Linked DNA regions of Homo sapiens: region 2 is linked to region 1. Evidence: fine-mapped expression QTL. Tissue or cell type: blood mononuclear cells. Region 1 holds a variant in brackets; the other region holds the start of a gene. All regions are shown on one strand. Distances are between the middles of the regions.

Region 1 (8,106 bases):
GTGTCCACTCTAAATTTACCACATATAGTTAAGAGAAGCCACGCAGCTTCATAATGCTTTGCTTCTTAGATTTTACTTCAGCCAGATGTCCTAGTTCATGGTTCTTAAGTTCTGTCTTCCATAAAGCCCTTGAGCATGGACACAATTCAGCTAACTTGTGTGCCACTTTATAACAAGGATGACCCATTTTCCAGTTTCCAATACCTTGCTCCTCATTTTCATCTGAGACTCATCAGAATAGTCTTCACTGTCCACATTTCCACCAACATTCTGGTCACGACCATTTAAGCAGTCTCTAAGAAATTTCAGACTTTCCTAACAGCTATCTCTTCTTCTGAGCCTTAATGCTCTGTACAGGTTTTTTTTTTTTTCTAGGCTTCTCCTCCAAATTCTTCAGCTTCTACCCATTACCCACTTCCAAAGTCACTTCCACATTTTCAGGTATTTGTTATAACAATACCCCACTTCTCCGGTACCAATTTTCTATTTTTGCTTTTTTGTGCTACTGTAACAGGATGCCCAAGAACAGAGATTTATTTGGCTCATGGTTCTGGTGGCTGGGAAGTCCAAGACTGAGAGGCTGGCAAGGGACTGCTTGCTGTGTGATCTCATGGCAGAAGGTAAGAGGGCAAGAAAGAGAATTTTACAATGAACCCACTTCTACAATAATGAACTCACTTCCACAATAACATCACTAATTTATTCATGAGGGTGGAGCCCTCAAGGCCTAATTGCCTGTCATTAGTTCTTACTTGCCAACACTCCTGCATTGGGGATTAAGTTTTCAATACATGCTTTTGGGGGAACACATGCAAACCATAGCACTAAAAGTTGAATTTAGCAAGATCGTAGGATACAAGTTCAATAACCAAATATTAATTATATTTTTATATACTAACAATAAGCAATTGGAAAATAAATTTTTTTAAAATCAAGGTATAATTCGTGTACCATAAAACTCACCATTTAAAAGTATACAATACAGTATTTGTTGCTTTTTGTTTTTGAGATGGAGTCTCCCTCTGTTGCCCAGGATGGAGCGCAGTGGCACAATCACGGCTCACTGCAACCTCCGCCTCCTGGGTTCAAGCGATTCTCCTGCCTCAGCCTCCCGAGTAGCTGGGACTACAGGCATGCCCCATCACGCCGGGCTAGTTTTTTTGTACTTTTAGTAGAGACGGGGTTTCACCACATTGGCCAGGCTGGTCTTGAACTTCTGACCTCGTGATCTGCCCATCTCAGCCTCCCAAAGTGCTGGGATTACAGGCATGAACCATTGTGCCCGTCCAGTGGTTTTTAATATGTACTTAAAATTGTGTAAACATCACCAGTATCTAATTCTAGAGCATTTACATCACCCTGAAAAAAAACCTCTTATCTATTGGCACTTGCTCATCATTTCCCATTCCGCACAGTTCCTGTCAATGGCTAATCTACTTTCCATTTTTATGGATTTGCTTATTCCGACATTTCATATAAATGGAATCACCCGATATATGTGGGCTTTTGTGTCTGGCTTCTTTCACTTACTGAAATGCTTTCAAGGTTTACCAATGTTGTAGCATGTGTCAGTACTTCATTCCTTTTTCTAACTGAATAATATCCCCTTGTATGTATATACTACTTTTTGTTTATTCACTCATAGGTTGATGAACATTTGGGAGTTTCCACTTTTTGGTTATTACGCATAATGCTGCTATAAACAATTTTTTATGTGAACATACGTTTTCAATTCTCTTGAAAACATAATTGGAATTCTCTTGGAAAGAAAGTTGGAAAATTAAATTTTAAAGATGTCATCTAGAACAGTGTAAAAAGACATTAAGTACTTAAGGATGAATTTAACAAAATAGACGTAACTCCTATATACCGAAACCTATAAACATTGCTGAGATAAATTTAAAAGATCTTAATACATGAGAAAACATACTATGGGCTGGGCACAGTGGATCACACCTGTAATCCCAGGATTTTGGGAGGCTGAGGCAGGCAGATCATTTGAGGTCAGGAGTTCGAGACCAGCCTGGCCAACATGGTGAAACCCTGTCTCTACAAAAAGTACAAAAATTATCTGGGCATGGTGGCATGCACTTGTAATTCCAGCTGCTCAGGAGGCTGAGGCAGGAGAATCACTTGAACCTGGGAGGCAGATGTTGTAGTGAGCTGAGATCGCACCGCTGCACTCCAGCCTGGGCAACAGAGCAAGACTTTGTCTAAAAAAACAAACAAACAAACAAAAAAACTATGGATTGTTTAATACATGTAAGTTTTTCTATAAATTAAATGCAATTCTAGTCAAATTTTCAGCAGTCTTTTGATTTAGAAATTGACTAGCTAATTCCAAAATGTATGCAATGTTAAATGTATTAAATAGCCAAAAATTTTTTGGGAAAGAACAAAGTTTGAGAACTTAGACTACTTCTTTTGAAGACTTATGACAAGGCTACAGTCATCAAGATAATATGATATTGATATAAGGATAAACTATGATCAGTAAAACAGAACCCCATATGTGTGATCAATTGATTTTCAGCAAAGGTACCAAGATAATTCAGCGGAGAAAGGACAGCCTTTTAAAGATGTGTTGCTAAAACAACTGCATAGTTGCATGGAAGAAAATGAACTTCAGCTCTTACCTGATAAACATAAAAATTAGACTTACATGTAAAAGCTGCATTTATAAAGTGACTAGAAGAAAACATTAAAAAGAAATCTTCTGGCTGGGTGCGGTATCTCAACGCCTGTAATCCCAGCACTTTGGGAGGCTGAAGTGGGCAGATTGCCTGGGCTCAGGAGTTCGCGACCAGCCTGGGCAACACAGTGAAACCCCATCTCTACTAAAATACAAAAAAAAAAAAAATTAGCCAGGGGTGGCAGCATGTGCCTGTAGTCCCAGCTACTCGGGAGGCTAAGGCAGGAGAATTGCTTGAACCTAGTAGGTGGAGGTTGCAGTGAGCCGAGATGGCGCCACGGCACTCCAGCCTGGGCGACAGAGCGAGACTCCGTCTCAAAAAAAAAAATCTTCACAACCTTGAGTAGACAATGATTTCTTAAACATGAATTCACCATCTTCTTGGTTTTGCTGGCTTTCCAAATAAATCTGGCTTTTCCTCCCACCAACCCTCATTTCTCGTGTCTGGTTTTTGAGCAGCAAGCAGCCAAACATAGGTTCAGTTACAAAATTTGGCACCCAATGTGGGGCTGTGTGCCCTCTGGTGGTCTAGCCTGCCTGGTTTCCATGGATGGAGCAATTGGCTGCAGCAGTGCACCAGGGCTTACCTGTTCATGTTATCAGGCAGAGCAGCAACCGCTTATGAGTGCTAGTTGCTGCTCATGGCTAGCTGCCTCTGTGGCTGGGATTCCAGGAGTGTCCTAGCAGCAACTGAGAAATCTTTTGTCTTGGGGACCCTCTCTTCTGTCCCCTTCATGGAATCAGCAGCCTGTAACACTTTGGTGGTGCAAGTGGTATCCAAGGGAGTTGATGGGCCCCAAGACTGGGTAAGTCAAACCAGGGCACACACGGGGAATCCTCTGTCTATGCTATTTGAGCTTTTGTGTCATTTGGACATAGCATGGGTTGCTTGTGTATCATTTGGTGTAAGATAAGATTCTTGATAACATTTCTGCAGTGCCCCTTTTCAGGAATGAGTTTGGGAGTGTTACATTTGTTTTGGTTTCTATGTGTTTATTAGTTTATTATTATTATTATTATTTTTTTTTTTTTTTTTGAGATGGAGTCTCGCTCTGTCACCCAGGCTGGAGTGCAGTGGTGCGATCTTGGCTCAATGCAACCTCCGCCTCCCGGGTTCAAGTGATTCTCCTGTCTCAGCTTCCTGAGTAGCTGGGATTACAGGCAGGCGCTACCACACCTAGCAAATTTTTGTATTTTTAGTAAAGACGGGGTTTCACCATGTTGGCCAGGCTGGTCTTGAACTCTTGTCCTCTGGTGATCCACCTGCCTCGGCCTGCCAAAGTGCTGGGATTACAGGCATGAGCCACCGCGCCCGGCCTAATTATTATTTTTAAATTTTATTTTATTTTTATTTTTTGAGATGTAGTCTCGCTGTGTTGCCCAGGCTAGAGTGCAGTGGGGCAATCTCAGCTCACTG[T/C]AACCTCTACCTCCCGGGTTCAAGCAATTCTCCTGCCTCAGCCTCCCGAGTAGCTGGGATTACAGGTGCGCACCACGATGCCTGGCTAATTTTTGTATTTTTAGTAGAGATGGGGTTTCACCATGTTGGTCAGGCTGGTCTCGAACTCCTGACCTCATGATCTGCCTGCCTTAGCCTCCCAAAGTGCTGGGATTACAGGCATGAGCCACTGTGCCTGGCCTTAATTATTATTTTTTAAAAGAATTTCAGGCCGGGCGCAGTGGCTCACACCTGTAATCCCAGCACTTTGAGAGGCCAAGACAGGCGGATCACCTGAGGTCAGGAGTCTGAGACCAGCCTGGCCAACATGGTGAAACACCGTCTCTGCTAAAAATACAAAAATTAGCCGGGTGTGGTGGCTCGCGCCTGTAATCCCAGCTACTCCAGAGGCTGAGGCAGGAGAATTGTTTGAACCGGGAAGGCGGAGGTTGCAGTGAGCGGAGAATACACCATTACACTCCAGCCTGGGCAATAAGAGTGAAACTCCGTCTGAAAAAAAAAAAAAAAAAGGAATTTCAGTTAGTTTATCTTGAGACATAGCTTACATTAAAATTATATTAAAACAAGCTTTAATTTTGAGCCATACATTGATGGATTATTTTATCACAAGTAGTTCTTTATTTCTACTCACATTATTTTATTTTATTTTCACTTTATTTTATTTTTTACTCTATTGTTTTACTTTTAGGTTCAGAGGTACATGTGAAGGCTTGTTATATAGGTACACTTGTGTCATGGGGGTTTGTTGTACAGATTATTTCATCACCCAGGTATTAAGCCTAGTACACAATAGTTATTTTTTCTGCTTCTTCCTTCTTCCCACCCTCCACCCTCAAGTAGACCCTAGTGTCTGTTGTTCCCTTCTTTGCGTTCATGAGTTATTTAGCTTCCACTTATAAGTGAGAACATGTGGGATTTGGTTTTCTCTTCCTGCGTTAGTGTGCTAAGGATAATAACCTCCAGCTCTATCCATGTTCCTGCAAAAGACATGATCTTGTTCTTTTTCATGGCTGCATAGTATTCCATGGTGTATATGTACCACATTTTCTTCATCCAGTCTATCATTGATGGGCATTTAGGTTGATTCCATGTCTTTACTTTTGTGAATAGTGCTGCAGTGAACATTCGTGTGCATGTGTCTTTGTGTTAGAATGATTTATATTCCTCTGGGTGTATATACCCGGGAATGAGATTGCTGGGTTAAATAGTTCTGTTTTTAGTTCTTTGAGGAATCGCCATACTGTTTTCCACAATGGTTGATCTAATTGACATTTTCACCAACAGTGTATAAGTGTTCCCTTTTCTTTGCAACCTCACCAGCATCTGTTATTTTTTGACTTTTTAATAATAGCCATTCTGACTGTGCGAGATGGTATCTCATTGCGGTTTTGATTTGCATTTCTCTAATGTTCAGTGATATATTTTTTTTCTTATATGCTTGTTGGCCACATGTATGTCTTCTTTTGAAAAGTGTCTGTTCATGTCCTTTGCCCACTTTTAATGGGATTATTTTTCTTTTCTCTTTTCTTTTTTTTTTTTTTTTTTTTTGAGATGAAGTCTTGCTCTGTCACCCAGGCTGGAGTGCAGTGGTGCAATCTCGGCTCACTGCAACCTCCGCCTTCCAGGTTCAAGCTATTCTTCCACCTCAGCCTCCCGAGTAGCAGGGACTACAGGTGCATGCCACCATGCCCAGCTACTTTTTGTATTTTTAGTAGAGACAGGGTTCCACCATATTGGCCAGGCTGGTCTCGAATTCCTGACCTTGTGATCCACCCACCTCGGCCTCCCAAAGTGCTGGGATTACAAGCGTGAGCCACTGCGCCCAGCCTGATTGTTTTTCTATTGTAAATTTAAGTTCCTTATAGATGCTGGATATTAGACATTTGTCAGATGCATAGTTTGCAAGTATTTTCTCCCATTCTGTAGGTCCTCTGTTTACTCTGTTGATAGTTTCTTTTGCTGTGCAGAAGCTCTTAAATTTAATTAGATCCCATTTGTCAATTTTTGGTTTTGTTGTGATTGCTTTTGGTGTCTTTGTCATGAACTCTTTTCCCATTCCTATGTCCAGGATGGTATCACCTAGGTTGCCTTCCAGGGTTTTTATAGTTTTGGGTTTTACATTTAAGTCTTTAATCCATCTTGAGTTGATTTTTGTATATGGTGTAAGGAAGGAGTCCAGCTTCAAACTTCAGCATATAGCTAACCAGTTATCCTAGCACCATTTATTGAATAGAGAATCTTTTTCCCATTTCTTGTTTTTGTCAGCTTTGTCAAAGACCTTGTGGTCATAAGCGTGCAGCCTTGCTTCTGAACTCTCTATTCTGTTCCCTGGGTCTATGTGTCTGCTTTTGTACCAGTACCATGCTGTTTTGGTTACTGTAGCCCTGTAGTATAGGTTGAAGTTGGGTAACATGATGCCTCCAGCTTTGTTCTTTTTGCTTAGGATTGCTTTGGCTATTTGGGCTCTTTTTTTGTTCTGTATGAATTTTAAAATAGTTTTTTTCTAATTCTGTGAATAATGTCATTGGAAGTTTGATAGGAACAGCATTGAATCTGTAAATTGCTTTGGGGAGTATGGCCATTTTAGTGATATTGAATCTTCCTGTCCATGAGCATGGGATGTTTTCCATTTGTTTGTGTCTTCTTCGATTTCTTTGAGCCATGTTTTGCAATTGTCATTGTACAGATCATTCACCTCCTTGGATAGCTGTATTCCTATGTATTTTATTCATTTTGTGGCAATTGTGAATGGGATTGCCTTCCTCAATTTGGTTCTCAGCTTGGCTGTTGGTGGTGTATAGGAATGCCAGTGATTTTTATACATTGATTTTGTATCCTGAAACTTTGCTGAAGTTGTTTGTTTATCAGCTGAAGGAGCTTTTGGGCCGAGACTATGGGGCTTTCTGCATATAGAATCATGTTATCTACAAACAGGGATAGTTTAACTTCCTCTTTTCCTACTTGGATGCCCTTTATTTCTTTCTCTTGCCTGATTGCGCTGGCTAGGACTTTCAGTACTATGTTGAATAGAAGTAGTAAGAGAGAGGAATGCTTGTCTTGTGCCAGTTTTCAAGGGGAATACTTCCAGCTTTTGCCCATTTGGTATAATGTCAGCTGTGGGTTTGTCATAGATGGCTTTTATTATTTTGAGGTATGTTCCTTCAATACGTAGTTCATTGAGAGTTTTTAACATGAATGGATGTTGAATGTTATCAAAAGCTTTTTCTACATCTATTGAGATAATCATGTGGTTTTTTACTTTAGTTCTGTTTATGTGCTAAATCACATTTATTGATTTGTGTATGTTGAACCAAATTTGCCTCCTGAGGATGAAGCCTACTAGATCATAATGGATTAGCTTTTTGATGTGCTGCTGGATTTGGCTTGCAAGTATTTTGTTGAGGATTTTTGAATCAATGTTCATCAAGGATATTGGCCTGAAATTTTCTTATTTATGTGTTTCTCTGCCAGGTTTTGGTATCAGGATCATGCTGGCCACATAGAATGAATTGGGGAGGAGTCCCTCCTTTTCAATTTTTTGGAATAGTTTTAGTAGGAGTGGTACCAGCTTTTCTTTATACATCTGGTAGAATTTGGCTGCAAATTCTTCTCATCCTGGGCTTTTTTTGGTTGGTAGGCTGTTTATTCCTGATTCAATGTAGGAGCTTGCTATTGGTCTGTTCGGGGGGTCAATTTCTTCCTGGTTCAGTCTTGGGAGGGTGTATATGTCCAGGAATTTATCCATCTTTTCTAGGTTTTCTAGTTTGTGTGCATATAAGTGTTCATGGTAGTTTCTGATGATTATTTTTATTTCTGTGGGGTCAATGGTAACATCCTTTTCATCATTTCTTTTTTTTTTAATTTGAGACAGAGTCTCACTCTGTTGCCCAGGCTGGAATGCAGTAGGACCGTGTCAGCTCACTGCAACCTCCGTCTCCTGGGTTCAAGCAATTCTCCT
Region 2 (8,106 bases), 40 kb after region 1:
AAAGGTAGATAGAGGGGCTAGTGTGATGAAATATTTCTATTCTGTTTCCTCCTTTGTCTTCTTGTAGATTTTATATTACCACCAAATGGACATAGAATGAAAAATTTTCCAAGCCTCCATCACCCCTCACTGGGATTCCTACAATGGTCTTCCATGGGTCTCCTTGCTGCTCTACCATCTGTTTTTAACATAACAGCCAAAGAGGGCCCTTTAAAAGACAAGATAGACTGTTCCTACTTTGCTTTTTAAAAACCTTCTAACAGCAATTCCACCCCCTGCAGAGTAAGAGCCAAAGTCATTACAGTGGCTTACAAGGCCCTTCTCTGTCTGGTCCCCAAGCCCTTACCTCTCTAACCTCATCTCCCACCACTATCCCTCACGTATTCTGTTGTAGCTATGCTGGCTTCCAACACACCTGGTTCTCTCTGGCCTTTGTACTTACTGTTTCTTCTGAACAGAACTTTCTTCTTTCAGTTTGCTCTCTCACATCCTTCAGGATTTTGTTCAATGCTACCTTGAAACCCCATCCCTACCCACCCCTGGCACTCCCTGTCCACACTCTGCCTTTCTCCATAGTACTCATCACCATCTGGTTTTCTATATGCTTTACTTATTTGTTACCACTCTGTTCTCCTCACTAGAAGAAAAGCTCCATTAAAGCAGGGATGTTGGTTCTTGGCCCATAAGAGGTGCTCAAAAAATTACTGACTGAATGAACAAACTCAACTTTGCTATAGTGGGAGGAAACTCTTGGACCTAAAGTCTACCAGTTGAAGCAATTCATAGGTATAGTCTGGTGTTTCTCAGCTCGGCATAGGTTTAAAGTATAAAACTATTGATTAAGCAACCCATAGCCTGCCTCACTTAGCTATACTTACTGCATGAAATCTAAGTTCAGAATGGAGAATTAGATATCTGCCTCTGTATACTTCTCAAATATGTCCAGATCCTTACATTTTATTGGCTAAAAAGAGCAGTGCCAAATTTCTCATGACAGTCTTCTGTTCCAGTAGGTTGAGTTATTAAAAATACAACCCCATGGAACTCAAAAGCTACTTTGATAGAGGAAACAGAAAAAGGGAGAGCCACAAACATTTTTATTTTTCCTGAAATAATATTTATGCCAATATCATAAATATGATATTTATGATTAATCATGCTATTATGATTAACACTGTATTAAATCCGCCTTCCAGGGGCTGCTGCTTGCCACTTCCCTGAGTGTGCAAGTTCTGATTCTGTCACTGACTGACTTTTGGTGCCAGATCAAATTTTTCCCTGCATCCCTTAGGATCTCAGGAGAAATATTGTCTTTTGTTACTGGATTCTAAGTAACCCTGAACTTGCTTTTAATTGAAAGGAAGCAAACTTCCCTGCCCTTGAAACACCCTTGGCTTTTAGCAAGAGCTCCTATTTTCCCCTTGACCATGGCTGGAGGATGCAATGGCCTTGGCTCTGCTTCCTTAGATTCTCTACCCTTCTCTATTTTTCCTGTCTTAGACTATCCTAAGAGGCTGTCCATGCATTTCACTGCTATAAATTCACCAACCCAGATATTCCGTTCTTCTCCTCACTTCTATCTCCTCATGTTTTCTAAATAGCTCCTTTTCAGTCATTTCAACTCTACCGTCATGCTTTATCAGATTTTAGGGCCAGGCGCGGTAGCTCACGCCTGTAATCCCAGCCCTTCGGGAGGCCGAGGTGGGAGGATCACCTGAGGTCAGGAGTTCAAGACCAGCCTGGCTAACATGGTGAAACCCCGTCTCTACTAAAAATACAAAATAAATTAGCTGGGACAGTGGTGCGCACCTGTAATCCCAGCTACTCGGGAGGCTGAAGCAGGAGAATTGCTTGAACCCAGGAGGTGGAGGTTGCAGTGAGCCGTGATCACGCCACTGCACTCCAGCCTGGGAGACAGAGCGAGACTCTGTCTGAAAAAAAAAAAAAAAAAAAGAATTTCACCAAAGGTCCTTTATTTCCAGTTACTTTTCATATCTCCATTTATTATAGCCCATTTGCAGATGGAAGGCATTGGCTTCTCTGCCATACAACTCTCTTGAGGCAGAGTTACTGCTACTCACTCTTTCCTCTGCTCTCAGTTCTGTGTTCTGGCTTCTGTTATACAGTTGATGGAGATCGTCTGTTTAACAAACACCCTGCCTCCCACACAGATGAAGATGTCCTCCAGGGCAGAGATTGCAGTCTTTCATTTCTATGTCTCCACCACACAGCACGGGGCCTGGCACTTAGCATGTGTTCATCAAGTGGTGACTGACTGAACAAGTTGTCTTTTCAAATGTGTCGGATCCCTCATTCACATTTCCACAGACATCTCCAGCCCTCCACACTCAAGTATGATCTCTAAATTCCTTCCATAGCTTGTGGTGTCCTTGAGACTGTCTTTTATTTATTTATTTATTTATTTGCTTTTATTTTTATTTTTTGAGATGGAGTCTCACTCTGTCGCCCAGGCTGGAGTGCAGTGGCACGATCTCAGCTCACTGCAGCCTCTGCCTCCCGGGTAGCTGGGATTATAGGCACGTGCCACCAAGCCAGGCTAATTTTTGTATATTTAGTAGAGACGGGGTTTCACCATGTTGGCCAGGCTGGTCTCGAACTCCTGACCGCAGGTGATCCACCTGCCTCGGCCTCCCAAAGTGCTAGGATTACAGGTGTGAGCCACCGTGCCGGCGAGAGTGTCTCTTATACCCGTGTCATGTGAATGAATGATTGCACTCACAATCATTTTAGGGAAGAGCATCTGATTATGGAACCTTATAAGTGCAACCTTCTAAGTGGACTTACATATATGGTGCAGCTTGAGAGGGACTAAAAAGGATCCTCTTCCAAAATCTCTCCCTCTCTCTCTAGCTAGCCTATCCAGTTGCTAGAATTCTGTCATCAGAGTTTCACGCCTTTGGGTTAATGGATTGTTCTAGCTCAACACACACAAACACAGCTGTATTAATCATTAATAAAGTCAGTTAGGAGTACTAGTGTAACAGATCCTTCCCAAATGAAAATGAGCTGAGAATCGGATCTGATGAGAAGGGATAAGAGACAGGAATGTGTGGGGACGTGGATCCAGAGTACTGACACTGAGTGGGGAAGCACCATGAATAGTCAGGGAGAAGGATGCTGAGAGACAGAGGCTTTTTTTTTCTTCTGGTTTTACTAGGTTAGGCTTTTAAGATATAGGCAGGAAACAAACTGTTAATGATCTGAAACCTAAAAACTGTGGACTTCCAGGTTAGCAAGCCCCAAACCTAATCTTTTCTCAACTAGCTGCTTTTATCTAGACAACTAGACCATCTGAAGTCAAAAAGGACCTCAGAGATCATTTTACGCCCCACCCGCATCACTTTTACAGATGAAGACATTCAAGCCAAACGGGATTAAGTTATCTCGCCCAGGGTCTCGCAAGTCCAGACTAGATCCTGGACTCCCCGTTCGCCTCTCCAGGAAGAACAAGTAATTATGCTTATTATAATCGCCACACAGCTTCATCTAGAGAAATGTCACTCACTGATTTTCAGAAGCTGAAATAGGTTTTCCATTCAATTAACCACAAACTAGGTCTTACGTATATACTTATTAAAGGAGACTCACAGACATCAAATTCTATAAATTGCAGTTAAAGAACATAAAAAAACACAACCTTGCCAAATATGCCACAAATTAAACTAAAGGATATTTTAGTGTTTCTATGATTGCTGGGGGTATGTAATTTCAAATACTGCACTTTCTCACTGAGATCTGTGCTATGCGGCTCTGGGTTCCAGGGACGTTTTAGTGCTTACCTTCTTCTCCCGCATGCTTAGAAGCCTTTGGACCTCTTGCGCAATGAGGAAACCCCAGGGTAACTGTGGGCAGTTGGCTGAGTAGAACCAGAAGCGTAAACATAGTCTGGCAACTGTCAAACAAACTAAAACAAACAAAAAAAAATATTAAAAAAAAAAGGCCCCTAGCTCAGCACTTTGAGTTTCTGTCGAACTGAATCACCAACCTGTTGTACTCAAAGCCTAGGCGCAAGAGCGCCCGGCGCGCGGTTTCGGTCGCCGGAACCCGACGCGCGCCCAGGAAGCAGCCCCTGAGAGCGCCTGGGACAAACGCCGTGCCCAGTGACCCTGCCGAGGGCTGATCGGGCACCTGTCGCCGCGGGCAACCCTCGCTATGTGTTCGAATCCAACCCAGTCCGCCGAGGTGGCCCCTTCCAGGTAACCCCCTCCCCGCCGAGGTCCTGCCGCCAGGCCTCGTACCTGTGTCCCCCCGCACATGTTCCAGCAGCCCCCGGGCCAGAGGCTCTTCTTGGGGCGGTTCCTTCGGCCGCCAGGCCCTCGGTCTCCGGCGCCCTCAAACCTCGGCGACGCTCCGGGCCTCGCTCTCCGCAGGGTCTGGATGGCCCCCGCGCGCAAACCTGGGAAGGGCCTGGGGTTCGCAGAGGGGCGCCCGGGGAACACGCGCGGGGTGAGGTCCTGCCTCGGTCCGGGGAGGCGGCCGACGGAGGACGGGAGGAGGCGGCTACCTGGGGACACCTGGCCGCGCCCCACCTCCCGGGGGCCGGGCCTACCTGCGGCGAGCGGGCGGGCAGTGGGCCGGCGTCTCCCGGGAGCCCGCGCTGCGCTCTCAGCCGCCCCAGCTTCTGCCCCATCCCCGGGCGGGCCAGCCGCCTGCCGCCAGTTCTGGCCCCGCCTTGGCGGCGCGGGTGGCTGCTTTTCGATTTGTGTCTGCACTCGGCGTTCTCAATGATCCTAATTCAGGAAGCATTTCGGTTCTCAGTCTTAAGCAGAGCGCCCTCGGCGCGTCCAGGGCTTTTCGCTTTGGGTCCCACTGGGCCAGGAGTCCTGTGGTTACCTTAGGTCAACTGTTCTCAAAAGGGTGGTCCGGGGACGAGGACAAGATATTCATCAGACAAAATACCCTTTATTCGTGATAAGAAATGGAAATGACCTTACAAGTAATTGATTACATTGGTTCTCCAATGGTGGTCCGCCAGGTCTGGGATGTCTCCAAGATCTTTTCCAGGGGTCTCTGAGGGCAAAACTATTTCCATTATAGTAACAATAAATGATTTGCCATTTTCACTTTCATTCTCTCAAGAGTGTACAGTGGAAATTTCCAGGGGCTATTTGAAGTGTAATAACGTCATCATTCTGTCTCCTAATAGAATACCTGAGTGAGCGTGCTTGTATTTTCTGGTATTTTCCATAGTAGTATGTTTACATTATCAGTATGTACATTTTATAGAGATTTATGTAGATTTATAGAGATTAATAAAATTTGTTCTCAGTACTTGTGAACTTAATTTTTTTTCTTTCCTTTTTTCTTTTTCAGAGTAGGGGGTCTCACTTTGTTGCCCAGGAACTCCTGGGCTCAAGAGATCCTCCTGTCTCATCCTCCAGAGTAGCTGGGACTACAGGTGTCCACCAACTCTCTTGGCTACTGCTTTTGTACTTTGATTAGTTCTATTTGTTCATATCTACTAGGATAGCTATAACCTCATTTTTCTGAAGTAATTATCTTGAAATCTTGATCTTTTCCTTGAGTCTATGCATAAACATAACAAAAAGTAAGCTTTGTTGTCTTGATTTCAAATAATATTTTGAAAATTTCTCAGTTTTAATGTTAGATAATAAATATCATTAGATAAAATTCACATAAGTGAAAGCTCTTTGGGGTCCTTGATAATGTAAAAGAGCGTAAAAAGGTCTTGATTAAAGACTTCAAAAACTGCTGCATCAAGTAATGAAGGCAGCAGGTGGACAGAGTACCTATGCCAGGTGATGGTCACATCCTTCTTTATCCAAAGAACGTGCTTAACAGTTCTTTGAAACACTATTTATGCTTTGGTCGAAGTGGTCTGGCACTTGCTGGGGACCAAGGGAAACATTTTTTCCCCCTTCATTTTTTTTTTTTTTTTCTTGAGACAGAGTCTTGCTCTGTCACCCAGGCTGGAGTACAGTGGCACAATCTTGGCTTACTGTAACCTTCGCCTCCTGGGTTCAAGCGATTCTCCTGCCTCAGCCTTCCGAGTAGCTGGGATTACAGGCATCCACCACCACGCCCGGCTAATTTTTTGTACATTTAGGAGAGAGGGGTTTTCACCATGTTGGCCAGGTTGTTCTCAAACTCCTGACCTCAGGTGATCCACCTACCTCGGCCTCCCAAAGTGCTGGGATTACAGGCATGAGCCACTGTGCCCGGCCTCAAATTTTTGACTAATTCAATTTTTACCAAATTCTGTTTTTCTCCTCCCAAAGGATATTGTCTATTTTATTATTATTATTGATAATCAACTGAATTATTCCTAAGTTTTCTGCAGAAATTTTGTTTTCACTGATTCCTTCTAGGCAGTGCTTTTCCTTTCCCTTCTTCCAATCCCTTCCTCTTCACTTTCCATTTGTCTACCTCGTGGTCTAAACTATTTCTATGATGGATTCTTCTTTCCCTCTTATTCAAGCAATTGGGATCAGACTATGAAGAGGCCAGACATGGTTTATTGTGGTTGAACACAAGAATAGGAAACATTTTCACTAGAACACCCATTTTCCTGTTTATTCATTGAGTCAACCTACAGCACTGAGACCTCCTGGTGGGGAGATGGACACCACAGCTTCTGTTGTGGAGGAGAACTTAATCTGACTGAGACCTATATCTGAGAATGTGGGCCTGTAAAGTTCTTATCAAGTGCAAGAACTGACTTATTCATTTTTGCATTCTCGACAGTACCCAGGGGAGTGCTTTCTACATTGTTCGTGCTGAATACATTTTCATGGAGTGGAAGCAATTTATCTTCAGGTAGGAAAAGTGCTTCATTTCCCACTACTTTGGGGAGAGGCCAATGGTCAAATGCCTCATGCTATGGAATCAGCAGTTGTGAACTTTGATGACATTCCTTGGTAAAATGAGTCTGCCCACATATCTGGATATTTGGACCAAAACAAATGAGGCCTTGTGCTGACATCAAATATCAGAGTTTATAGACAGAGAGGGAGGCAGACAGAGAAATGAAGTCTGTTTCTCAGTAGTGAATTACATCCCTGTGTGTTTCCCTGTAACATTGAGTCCTAGAGAATGTTACAGCATTTGGCAGCATGCACACAAACTTCAGTCACTACGGAGCTGCAAGATATTTTGAGGTTAGATGGCAAAGAGAGAAATGAGAAAAGCCAGTAACAACAATGCCCAAGAGAGCTGATTTCTTCTATTATTTCCTTGCTGTATTAATTTTATTTTGTGCCATCTGCTATTTAAAGTTATAATATTCTTGGTCGGGCACGGTGGCTCACACCTGTAACCTCAGCACTTTGGGAGGCCTAGGCGGGCAGATCATGAGGTCAGCAGTTTGAGACCAGCCTGGCCAACACAGTGAAACCCCGTCTCTACTAAAAATACAAAAAAAAATTAGCCAGGCATGGTGGCAGGCACCTGTAAGTCCAGCTACTCGGGAGGCTGAGGCGGGAGAATCGCTTGAACCCAGGAGGCAGAGGTTGCAGTGAGCCGAGATCGCGCCATTGCCCTCCAGCCTGGGCAACAAGAGTGAAACTCCATCTCAATAATTATAATAATAATAATGTTATAATATTCTTATGCCTTTCTTCCAAAGCATTTTAAGTGTTCTCACAGATGGTATTTTTCTTATACTGGCTATCTGTGGAGTTGGGCTAGATATTATAATTCTCATTTTACAAAGAGGGATATTGAAGCATGAAGTAAATGAATAGTCATCGGCCAAGTAGTAGCTTGGTTCTTGACTCTGGGTTTTTTTTTTTGTTTTTTTTTTTTTGAGTTATTATCAAGCAATAAAGGGCAGTAGGTAAAGAATTATTTAGTTCAGAGGGAATAAGAAAAAAAATTGGAGCAATGAGATTAATGGACTTGGATTAATGTGATAATGCATCTCTGAATTTGAGCACATACCCGCCCACTTACCTGTGTGAATTCAAGAATGAAATGAAAACTCACTTTACTGTGTGGGCATGAGGATGGACTCAAGGACTGTGACAGGAGATGTTAAGATTGCAGCCATGAAGCTCTGTAAGTAAAGTCACCTCCACATCCTTAAAGGCACATCGATGACTATCATTAGCCTCTTGAAGAGATGCA

What was found. PIP is the estimated chance that this variant, and not a neighbour inherited with it, causes the effect.
Region 2: PRRG4 starts here. The variant in region 1 is fine-mapped to the expression of PRRG4 in blood mononuclear cells (TOPMed, PIP 0.95).

What each region holds. Positions count from the first base shown.
Region 1 is chr11:32,866,006-32,874,111 of GRCh38, reverse strand. No RefSeq gene overlaps it. Among named protein-coding and RNA genes, the nearest start is that of QSER1, 23 kb to the left of the region's middle. The variant T/C (reference allele first, on the strand shown) is at 4,110.
Region 2 is chr11:32,826,327-32,834,432 of GRCh38, reverse strand. It overlaps PRRG4 (proline rich and Gla domain 4), which reads right to left and starts at 4,506. Exons shown (of 6, transcript NM_024081.6): 1 at 4,260-4,506; 2 at 3,801-3,925. The coding sequence starts at 3,903. It also overlaps a transcript of CCDC73 not described here. RefSeq lists enhancers at 3,810-3,869, 3,880-3,929 and a silencer at 4,350-4,729.